Homo sapiens: one gene and its partners. The protein of the gene in region 1 purifies or fractionates together with the protein of each later gene. This does not show direct contact. Each region holds a gene or a part of one and is shown in the gene's direction. Other genes may lie near its edges. The genes, in order: ARHGAP22, PIP4K2A and PDCD2L.

Region 1 (3,821 bases):
TAAGCGCACATCCAGCACATGTGCACACACATGCACACACAAGCCCACACTACATGCACACATGTGCGTACACACTTCTCCCTAAAGCATTGCTGGTATCCAGCAGGTGTAGCCCACGCGGGCATGTGTTCTCAAAGGAAGAGTCTTCACCTTTCAGGTTTTATACACTTTGTTTTTGGGTCAAGCAGGGTGAGGAGGAGCATTTACTGTGTTCTGCTCTGTGCCAGGCACTGTATCAGGGACCGATGTATCTTATTCCAAAATAGCCCCTGGGTGGGAAGCTAAGTAAGACAAATGGAGCCCCACTTTTAGCTGGCTCAGTGCCCAGGTCTCTGAGAAGTCCCAAGCCTGGACATGGAGCTTTGGCATCTTGCCCCTGGAACACCCCACAAGCCACCCTGCAGGGAAGGTCTCTGCACAGTGGGTGTGAATAATGTCAGACACTCCAAAGAGTCAGGCACGCACCTTGTAGAGCTTAGGGGCTGGCACAAGTCTGTTTCTCCAGTTACTGTGCCGTGGTGTAGACAGCTTTATGGATCTCAACTCCTTCCCTTCTTTGCCTGGGCTGCCAGGAACCTCTTAGCCTAGTGATATATTTAGTTTTCATAGATTTTCTCAGAAGTTCCTCTGCCTCCTTCCTCTCTCCCTCTATTCCTCATTTGGTGTCTTGTCATGTATTGTTTTAGATCATTCTCTCTCTGATTTCTTTTCTTTCTTTTTGCTAATGTTATTTAAGAGTAACATGCAGAAAAGCATACAAGTCATAAGTGTACAGTTCAGTGAATTTTCTCAAGAGGAACATAACTGGGTAAGCAGTGCTGGGGGAGAGACACAGTGTTACCAGGACCCCAGAAGCCTTTGAGCCCCTTCCAGTCACTGACCCACCAAGGGAACCATGTCCCGGCCTAACAGCACAGATGCGTTTGACCTGTTTTTAACTTTACATACATGGAGTCATGCAGTGTGCACTCTGGGGTTTGGCTTCTTTTGTTTCTGATGATTTTTTTTGTCTTCTAATTTTTAAAACATTTCATAAAATACACTTAGCATAAAATTTCCTGTCTTCATTTTTAAAGCACACAGTTCAGCAGCATTACATTCATTTCAATTATCGTGCAACCATCAGCACTATCCATCTCCAGAACACTTTCCATCTTGCAAAGCTGAGACTCTGTGCCCATTCAATTCTAACTTGCCATCTCCCCTGTCCCCAGCTCCTTGCAGCCACCATTCTACTTTCTGTCTGTGAATTTGAATACTCCAGGTTCTTCATATAAGGGGAATAACACAGTATTTGTCCTTTTGTGAATGATTTACTTCACATAATGTTCTCAGGTTCACCCATATTTTATCACTTGTCTGAATTTCCCTCCTTTTTAAGGGAATTCAGGCTTAAGGCTGAATCAAGTTCTACTGTATGCAAATACCACGTCTTGGTACTCCATTCATTGATGGACACATGGCTTGCTTCCGCATTTCAGCTACTGTGAATAATGCTGCTGTGAACATGGGTGTGCAAGTATCTCTTTGAGACCTTGCTTTTAATTCTTTTAGGTATATACCCAGGGGAGGGATTATTGGTAATTCTGGTTTTAATTTTTTGAGGAACTGCCATACTGTTTTCCACAGCAACTACACCATCTTATCATCCTGCCAGCAGTGCACAAGGAAGGGTTCCAGTTTCTCCACATCCTTGCCAACACTTGTTACTATCTGATCTTTTGATAGTAGCCATCCTAGTGGGTGTGAGGTGGTATCAGATAGTGGTTTGGATTTGCATTTTCCTAATAATGATTGATGCTGAGTCACGACTATGGTTTTCACATTACTATGTCATCTGTCTTGTCCAGTGAGCTGTGCCTCATTTATTCTCATTGCTGCACTGTGTTCCATGGTAAGAATAGAACACAGGAGATCTGCTGTTGATGGGCACTGGATGGCTTCTCATTTGGAATGACTGCAAAACCAATCAATGACAGGCATAATGAACGCTCCCAAGGGCCATTTGCTCCTGGCTTGGGCAAGCTCCATGGCCAGGTCACACCACCATCTCACTGCTCCCTCCTGCTGTCTGTCCACAGGCAGCCCAGGGCCCAGCCTCCTGGTGTGCATCCTCCCAGCATGTGTCCGGGCGGCCAGGGCACAGCCTTCTGGTATGCATCCTCCCAGTGTGTAATTTGCTTCCTGAGGAGGAGCCACCTTTAGCCCTAACAGTGCGCCTGCCCTCCATTGTCCTGAGCACCCAACACTGAGCTGGGTGGTGGAGGGTGTGACTAGCTCCTCTCTGTGCTCAGGGATCTTTGGGCAGCGCCTAGAGGAAACAGTCCACCACGAGCGGAAGTATGGCCCCCGCCTGGCGCCCCTGCTGGTGGAGCAGTGTGTGGACTTCATCCGGGAGCGCGGGCTCACTGAGGAGGGGCTGTTCCGCATGCCAGGCCAGGCCAACCTGGTGAGGGACCTGCAGGATTCCTTCGACTGTGGGGAGAAGCCACTGTTTGACAGGTGAGCTTGTGATCGGGGGTAAGGTGGAGCCATTTGTCCATTCCTCCTGCAGGGGCTCCTGCCCAGGACACCAGCTCCAGTGGGCAGGGGTGGGCTAGCGACAGGATGGTGGGCCAGCCCTCCTAGTGGGCAGAGTGTAGGGCACACCCTCACTCCGCCAGCCCGGGGTCCCCTCTCAGGATGGATGCCTGCCATGCACGAGGCCAGCTCACATCCACACAGCCTGCCTCCCCTGCACATGCTAATAAACCTGACCCAGGCAGGAAGAAAAGGACCTCTGCTGGCTCCCATGTGAGGACTGACCAGGCGCAGCTGCATCCGGACCCCAGGCCTTCTGCGGGGTCTGTCTCTTGGCCGTGCTTCCTCCGGTGACCTACCCCCAGGCTCTATCAATGGCAAGATGGCACAGCAGCTCGGCTCCCCTCCTTTTGGGTTCTGGGGACAGGAGAGCGAGTCTCCTCCATCTGCTCTGGGGCCGGGGCCATGTCCATCCTACCCATCATGGGGGCTTACCCAGGCCCTGGATGCCCCTGGGTGGAGCCAACTATACCCCCAGCCTAGGGCCGTTTGGGGATTCTGTTTCCCCTGACAGTGCCCCCACCCATTATGGGGCAGTTTTTTCATAGAGTTCTCTCTACATCAGGAAAAACTACCCTCCATGGGGCTTATGCCCTGTCTTCTTGGATCTGCCCCAGGATGGGCCCACCAGGACCTGCAGGCAGCCCTGGCCTCCCAGGGCTTCTCCTCTGGGGGCAGAACACTCAGCCCCTCAGCTCTTTCCCAGGCCCGTCACTGCAGCCAGGGGAGGGTGTCAGCTCCTCTCCTTAGATGTGGAGTCCAGGACTGACCACTGTTCCCTAGCGGTGCTCCACCCAGGGAGGTACGGGGGACCCTTCCTCTGGAGCTTTGTGAAGCTCCATCCCAGTGTTGACGCTCAGTGAGCTTGTCGTCCATTCTGAACCTCAGCCAGCCAGGCCTCTTCCATCCTGTGTCTCAGCGTTAGGGTTGCAGATTGCTTCAAATAATGTCACCTGGGTAAGGCCTGGGAGCCGAGACTTTTGGAAGCTCCCCAGGATCAGATGCTCTGCCCTAGTGCCTGATGCTACCTGAGGGGCTTCTGCAGACACAGATCAGACCTTGCCACTCCCCTACTCAAACTCTGCTGGGGCTCCCTGGAGTGGCACAGGCCGTCTGCGCCTCACCCACACTGCCAAGCTTCTCCCATCCTGCTGGGGGGGTCTCCACCTGGGCACACCTGCTCTCCCAAGGTGTGGTTCCTGGCATGCTCAGCCTCCTTTCTCCACCTGGCCTGCCTGCTG
Region 2 (3,600 bases), about 26 Mb from region 1:
ACCATATTTGTGATTGTTTTTGAATTTCATGGTAGCAGCAGGTCCTACAGGCAACTTTTGCTTTGCAAACACTTATTCCTTGACTTAACCCAGCACCACAGCAACCATCGCTCACTTAATCACTAGAAATTTGGCAAACCATTATCTTGTTTTTATCAATCTTTAAAAAATGTAGGTAGGCCAGGTGCAGTGGCTGGTGCCTGTATTCCCAGCACTTTAGGAGGCCAAGGTGGGCAGATTCCTTAAGCCCAGGAGTTCGAGACCAACCTGGGCAGCATGGTGAAACCCCATCTCTACCAAAAATACAAGAAGTTTATCCAGGCTTGGTGGTGCGCGCCTGTAGTCTCAACTACTGGGGAGTCTGAAGTGGGAGAATCACCTGAGTCTGGGGAAGTAGAGCCTGCAGTGAGCTGTGATTGCACCACTGCACCCCCAGCCTGGTTGACACAGCGAGACCCTATCTCAAGGGAAAAAATAAAAATAAAAAAGAGGTATAGCTCACATTTATTTTAATGTTTAATATTAGAAGTGTTTTGAATTTTTACTTTGAAGTTCGGTGATGTTTTTGTAACCGGAAATAATGCTGTAGGAACTTAACTCTTTTTTTATATGTCAGCCTATGGCAAATTTGGTTTTGTTATATGTTGTTTTGCTTAAGGTGACAGTTTCCAAGAACCTACTCCGTGAGGACTGGTGAGCTGGGTCAGAGTAAATAGCACAGGATGACGACTGCAAGGACGATATGGGGGCAGCAGGGTTTTAGACATACTTGGAATGGCAGCTTCCTGAGGTAGGCCAAGTATTCTCAGCATAATAAGGGCTACATTTAGGTGTATCTGGAGGAAGACGGTGAACAGATTTCCACGGACGGTGAGTGCACTGGAAAACAGGCAGGGATGGCAAGTACCATAGTGATGGATTGGAAGAAGGTGCACTTTGGGGCATGATTCTACTGGTTAAGCCAAGGGCTCTCGATGAGGTCCGAGGTTCCTGCCCCGGGCACGGAGTGGGTTGGCAGTGACAGCCCAGCCTATTACGTGGGAGTCTCCCTCTTGAATGGCTCCAGGAGGCCCATATCGAGGGTCTGAAAGGCCAGACGGTTATCCGCACAAAAGTATTAAGTTCATTTCAGGGACTGACCCGGCAATGTGCCCGGGTCCTTCCCCTCGGTGCTGGGAAGCCCTGGTCTCCCTGCAGCATTTCACACCTGGCTGGGTCTCCTGACTCGTGGCGTGGGTGAGTGCATGAGCCTCCCTCCTTCGCCTGATCGACGCCTGGGGGCTCCTCTCCCCAACCTCCTCACTCTGCCCACTCTGTCCTCTCCCTCCTTGGGGAGCGGCAGGGGACGCCTAGCCGGGGTCCCCAGGCTCCCGCTCGCAACCCACGGCCTCCTCCGCGGGCAGGGAGCGAACGCCCGGAGGTCGCCCGCGCACAGGGGGCGGCCCGGCTGCAGCGGAGCCGGGGCGGGAAGGCGCAGCCTAACGGTCCAGCTGCCGCGCCCCGCGCCCCGCACCCAGTGCCCCGCCCGCGGCGCCGCAGCCGCCTCCCGCCTGCCCGCCCGCCCCCTGCGTCATGACGCCGGCGCCCAACGCGGAAGCCGCTCGCCGCGCGCCGGGTCCAGCCGCGGGCTGAGCGCGGATCCGCGGCGGGCGCAGGATACGGGCCGGGGCGCGAGCCGAGCGCAGTCTGCCGGGCCGAGCGGGCGGAGCGAGCCGAGTGGGGCTGAGCGCGCCGGCGGCGGCGGGCGGAGCGGAGCGCGGCGCGCCGGGGCCGCCGCCGGGGGGATGCGGCTGCCTCCCCGGGCCGGGGTGTAGAGAGGGCGGGTCCCCGGCCTCGGGAGCACGGCGGTGGAGGGGACATAGGAGGCGGCCATGGCGACCCCCGGCAACCTAGGGTCCTCTGTCCTGGCGAGCAAGACCAAGACCAAGAAGAAGCACTTCGTAGCGCAGAAAGTGAAGCTGTTTCGGGCCAGCGACCCGCTGCTCAGCGTCCTCATGTGGGGGGTAAACCACTCGGTAAGGGCTCAGCTGCGGCGCGCGGTCCCCTTCCTCCTCCTCCTCTTCCTCCTCGTTCCCCTCCTCCTCCGGCTGCAGCTGCTGCGGGGCGGGGAGCCGGAGTCAGCCCTGGACCTCCGGCTGCTCGCCCGCCTCGAAGCCCCCAGCCCCGCGGCGCGTGCCCCCAGCCCTCTGGGCCGCCCAGGCACCACCACTTGCGTCCCCTTTAGATCTATGGCCCGGTGCGGGTCGGGGGTCCCGTGTGCATGTGAGTCTCACGGTGGGTGCCAGTGCCGCCCCCGGTCCGCCCGCCCGCCCGCAGGTCGGTCCCCGCAGCCTGGGAGGTAGGAAGTTTGTGCGGGGCACGGCGCCTCGGCTGTCAGCCCCGGCGGGAGCTGCTGGGGGCCGGGTCCGGGCGACCGCTACCCGGTGTGGGGGCCGCGCGGCGCCCGCGTCTTCCGCTTGCGGGCAGGTGTACCTGTCCCGGGCTGGGCGCGTGCGAGCCTCCCACTGGGGCACTGGGGCGAGGATACCGGAGCGCGAGCAGATTTGGGGCAGCAGCTTTAGTGCTTAGGTCCTTTCTTTTTCCTTTAAAGGCAATATTACTGGGCACAAGTCGGCTTTTTGGCAAAGCAGCAGCCGATGTAAATATGGCTCTGGCGTCGGGCGGCATCCCTGCGCTTCTCCCGCATCGCCCTGCCGCTGTGCGGGCTGGAGAGCCCTTGGCGGGGAGTCTTCCTCCCTTCGTCGCCTCCCCCCACTTTGGGGAGTCAGGCAGAAGTCACCGACTGCGGAAGGGCGGCCGGGGCGGGGACAGCAGGCGGGGGTCCCGGCGGGCGCGGGCGGAGGGGGTCCCGAGTTGGCCGCACCCGCTGTGGGGGGTGTGGGAAAGGCTGGAGAACGCGTGGAAAGGTTAGCGTCACGCACAGTCGGGGATTGGAGGATGCGCCGCTGCGGGCTATGCGGACTGCGGTTCGAGGGTCTGAAATAGCCTCCTGCTGATCTGACAGCGAGAAACTCCTGCAGTTTTAATCCACTTCGATAGGATCAGGAAACATGATCGGAGCTGTTGGCTCAGCCAGGAAAGTTTAAACGAGCTGTGAATTTTGACCATGACCTTAGCCACTGCAGTCACTTAGCATCTGGGGAAAAGTGTAAGTTCGCTTTCCCTGCTTTTGATTTCGATGGATGTCTGTATGTCCTTTTCAGCGTAATGGAAATGACAGAAAACCATGCTGGTTTTTCGGAAAACACACACACAGACACACACACACACACACACACACACACCCTCAATGTAGTGAAGTTGTTTAAAATGCCTAAAAGCATCGTTTTTGTATTTTTCTTCCCCAAGCTGAGCAGGGGGAAGGGCAAAACAGTATCAGGATCGATCGTGTTTGCATGGAGTGAGTGTTTTTGGAAAAGTTGAGAAATGATTATTTTTATCCAGCTTAATGACTGACTCACTGAAGTTCATTTTAACTTCCTGGCAACTTCTTTAGCTATTTGGGAATGTAAGTTGTTACAAGAGCATGCATTACTGCACCAAAAACTCCTCTCTCAAGTTTTATTACGGAAAATGAAATGCAATTTTTCCTAAGTAATA
Region 3 (3,821 bases), on another chromosome or scaffold:
TTCACCGTGTAGCCAGGATGGTGTCGATCTCTTTACCTCGTGATCCACCCGCCTTGGCTTCCTGAGGTGCTGGGATTACAGGCGTGAGCCACCACACCTGGCCACTCCAGATTTCTTTAACCACCACTCTACTCTCTACTTCTTTGAGGTTGTTTTAGATTCCACATATAAGTGAATACATGCAGCATTTGTCTTTGTGTCTGGCTTATTTCCCTTAGCAAAATGTTCTCCAGTTCCATCCATGTTGTCACAAATGACAGAATTTCCTTTTTTTTTTTAAGGGTGAAAAATATTCCATTGTATATATAGTAGTTTTTTTAAACTTACACTGAAGGTCTTGAGACACACAGTTTACTGATTTTCCTGTTTGGGAATATATATGGGTGTGTACATATATGTGGTTGTATGTGATAATGTATACGTGTCTTTATAGTAAATATACTTTATGAGAGCTATATATGTATTAACACATTTCATAAGATGAAATCTGAATTTATTGAAAAGGCAGGCAAGTTGGTAGCTGCAGAACACAATTTAGCCTCCCTTTGACTGTAAATGTGTCTTTATATATACACTGAGTTTGTTTGTTTGTTTGTTTGTTTTTTGAGATGGGGTTGCATTCTGGTCACCCAGGCTGGAGTGCAGTGGCATGATCTCTGCCTCTTGGGCCCAAGCCATTCTCCCACGTCAGCCTCCTGAGTAGATGGGATTACAGGCACGTGCCACCATGCCCAGCTGATTTTCATATTTTTTGTATAGATGGGATTTTGTCATGTTGCCCAGGCTGTTCTTGAACTCCTGGACTCAAACAGTCCGCCCACCTCAACCTCCCAAAATGCTGGGATTACAGGCGTGAGACACTGGGCCCGGCCTGCACCCAGTTCTTGATGTTTGCTAGGCATAGTATTAGCAGTACTTAAATAAAAAGTTGAAGACAGTGGTGTTTGCCTATATTTGTCAGGGTTCAGGTGCAGATAATTAGAAAAGTGCTGTTGCTTTTTCTTTTTTTTTTTGAGACCGAGTGTCGCTCTGTCACCCAGGCTGGAGTGCAGTGGTGTGATCTTGGCTCACTGCAACCTCCGCCTCCCGGGTTCAAGCGATTCTCCTGCCTCAGCCTCCTGAGTAGCTGGATTACGGGCACGTGCCACCATGCCTGGCTTTTAAGCTGAGACAGACTTAACACAGGAGTGAGGTTTTTAGTAAGTGGATAGGCTGAAGGAGGAGGCTCCAGGAATGCCCTCCAGAATCACACCTCAGAACTGGCCGTGAAGGAGCTGCTATGCCACCTCTCCTGCTGTCAGGAAGCTTAGGTGTGATCTGGTGAACTAGAGGCTGTCTTTGCCACCGAACCGTTGGCTCCAAAGCCTTGTTCTGTCTGTGTCTACACAATGGCTACCTTTTGCTATGTGGTCTTTCTTTCTACTTCACTCTGTCTCAAGTTCATGTTTCTCTCTAGTAGACCTGATTAGCAGACCCCTAATCATATCTGAAACCCTAGCTGCTAAGGGGTCTGGGAAAGGTAGTTCTTTCTTTTCAGTTCCTGCAATACATGAAGCACAACAGAAAGATATTGGAACGGATGGTTGAATAACCCCTGTACTATATCTGTCACACTCACCCCAAAAAGGAAAGACAAGTATTTTAAGTCACCTCCAACGTGCTTTTGAGTACATAGGGTCTAGAAAGTTTGATTGGAGTGTACCAGAGGGGAAGGGGATGGTGTGAAGGCTCCCTCTGGAAGGCGCGGCGGTGGGTGGCTGGAGCCGAAGGATTAGAATAAACCTCCCAAATGTGCTCGGACCTCATTCACTGAGTATTTTTCCAGAAACAGGGAAACAGCCTTGCAGCTGAGGACTGGTGTGAAGGTGCTGATGACTGGGGAAGTGATACTGAGGAGGGGCCTTCACCACAGTTTACCTTGGATTTTGGGAATGATGCCAGCAGTGCCAAAGACGTAGACTGGACTGCTCGGCTCCAAGACCTCCGCCTGCAGGATGCTGTCCTGGGTGCTGCCCATCCTGTGCCTCCTGGGCTGCCGCTCTTCCTGCCCTACTACATCTGTGTTGCAGATGAGGATGATTACAGGGACTTTGTCAACCTGGATCATGCCCACAGCCTTCTGAGGGACTATCAGCAGAGAGAAGGCATTGCCATGGATCAGTTGCTTTCCCAAAGGTGAGGATGTGTGCTGCTGAGGTTGAGAGGTGACTGGATTGGGAAGCAGCCACAAGAGTTACCCTTCAGTTTCACCACAGGACCTGGGGAAACTTTCAGGCAGAACTTGTATGTAGGACCTTTTTGCTTCACTTCCTTATCAGCCAACTTGAGTTAGCTTGAAAACCCTGCTCTATTTATAATTGCCGTTAAGAAAGTGAAGATGAACAAACAGAAGTTAGAGATGGCAAGTATTTATAGAAGACGCGTTCACTGACTCTTAAATTTTCTTTTATATTTCTAATATGTCTTTATAGCAGAGACAGGCAAGTTAGAAAACTACCATTTGATCTGGGATAATAAGATTGGGGTGAAAAAATGGAAAAAGGAAAAGAAAAACGCCATTTGTTTATTGACTCTTGGCTGTGGCTCCAGAACTGGCCCAGGACCTCAGAGATGCTTTCAGATCCTCAATTCTGTAAAATGAGAGTGATGGTGATATCTCTGTTCTCTGTTTCATCCCATGATTTTTTGAGAGTTAAGCGAGAGGGTAGATCTTGAAAGGCTTTATAAACCAAAGCTCTCTAAAGAGGTAAGAATGATCATTTTTGCTTATTGATTGACTGAGAGAGACAGGGTCTCACTCTGTCACCCACGCTGGAGTGAATTGGTGTGATCAAAGCTCATGCAGCCTTGAACTCCTGGGCTCAGGCAATCTATCTTAGTTTCCCAAGTAGCTGGGAGTACAGGTGCACACCACCATGTCTGACCAATTAAAATTTTTTGAGTTTCGCTGTTGTTACCCAGGCTGGAGTGCAATGGCACGATCTCGGCTCACTGCAACCTCCACCTCTCAGGTTTAAGCAGTTCTCCTACCTCAGCCTCCCAAGTAGCTGGGATTATAGCCATGTGCCACCATGCCCAGCTAATTTTTGTATTTTTAGTAGAGATGGGGTTTCACTATGTTGGTCAGGCTGGTCTCGAACTCCTGACCTCAGGTGATCCACCCACCTCAGCCTCCCAAAGTGCTGGGATTACAGGCGTGAGCCATTGTGCCTGGCCTAAAAATTTGTTTTAGCCACTGCACCCAGCATTTTTTACTATTAGAATAAAAAAATTACAATAGAATATTTGGAGAAATGGCCTGGTTCTTTACCAGAACTGTTTCATTTGTAGGCTTTTTCAGAATAATGATGAAGGGGAATGCATGAAGACATGTTGGTGTTTGAAAATAATCCTTAATAGAATTGATGGTTATAAGGACTTTTTATTTTTTATTTATTTATTTATTTATTTATTTATTTATTTTTGTGTGTGTGTGATATGGGCTCTCTTGCCAGGCTGGAGTGCAGTGGTGCGATCTCGGCTCACTGCAACCTCCCCTTCCTGGGTTCAAGCAATTTTCTTGCCTCAGCCTCCCAAGTAGCTGGGACTACAGGTGCGCGCCACCACACCCAGCTAATTTTTGTATTATTAGTAGAGACGGGGTTTCACCATGTTGACCAGGATAGTCTCAATCTCTTGACCTCGTGATCCACCTGCCTTGGCCTCCCAAAGTGCCGGGATTACAGGTGTGAGCCACCGCGCCCGGCAGGATTTTTTATTTTTTAATTTCTTAAGTTTTTATGTATTTGCTTATTTTTGGTGGGTTTCTTCAGACTAGAGTA

What was found.
Region 2: the proteins of ARHGAP22 (region 1) and PIP4K2A purify together in Homo sapiens (affinity purification with mass spectrometry; 2 studies listed by BioGRID and IntAct, with this or other methods). This does not show direct contact.
Region 3: the proteins of ARHGAP22 (region 1) and PDCD2L purify together in Homo sapiens (affinity purification with mass spectrometry; 2 studies listed by BioGRID and IntAct, with this or other methods). This does not show direct contact.

The regions. Positions count from the first base shown.
Region 1 is NC_000010.11:48,458,365-48,462,185, reverse strand, and holds part of ARHGAP22 (rho GTPase-activating protein 22), read left to right. Parts: intron 1-2,294; coding exon 2,295-2,502; intron 2,503-3,821.
Region 2 is NC_000010.11:22,712,598-22,716,197, reverse strand, and holds the start of PIP4K2A (phosphatidylinositol 5-phosphate 4-kinase type-2 alpha), read left to right. Parts: upstream 1-1,619; 5' UTR 1,620-1,871; coding exon 1,872-2,015; intron 2,016-2,089; exon of another isoform or gene 2,090-2,262; intron 2,263-3,005; exon of another isoform or gene 3,006-3,148; intron 3,149-3,600. UniProt on the Homo sapiens protein: Catalyzes the phosphorylation of phosphatidylinositol 5-phosphate (PtdIns5P) on the fourth hydroxyl of the myo-inositol ring, to form phosphatidylinositol 4,5-bisphosphate (PtdIns(4,5)P2). Has both ATP- and GTP-dependent kinase activities.
Region 3 is NC_000019.10:34,407,336-34,411,156, forward strand, and holds part of PDCD2L (programmed cell death protein 2-like), read left to right. Parts: intron 1-1,825; coding exon 1,826-2,175; intron 2,176-3,821. UniProt on the Homo sapiens protein: Over-expression suppresses AP1, CREB, NFAT, and NF-kB transcriptional activation, and delays cell cycle progression at S phase.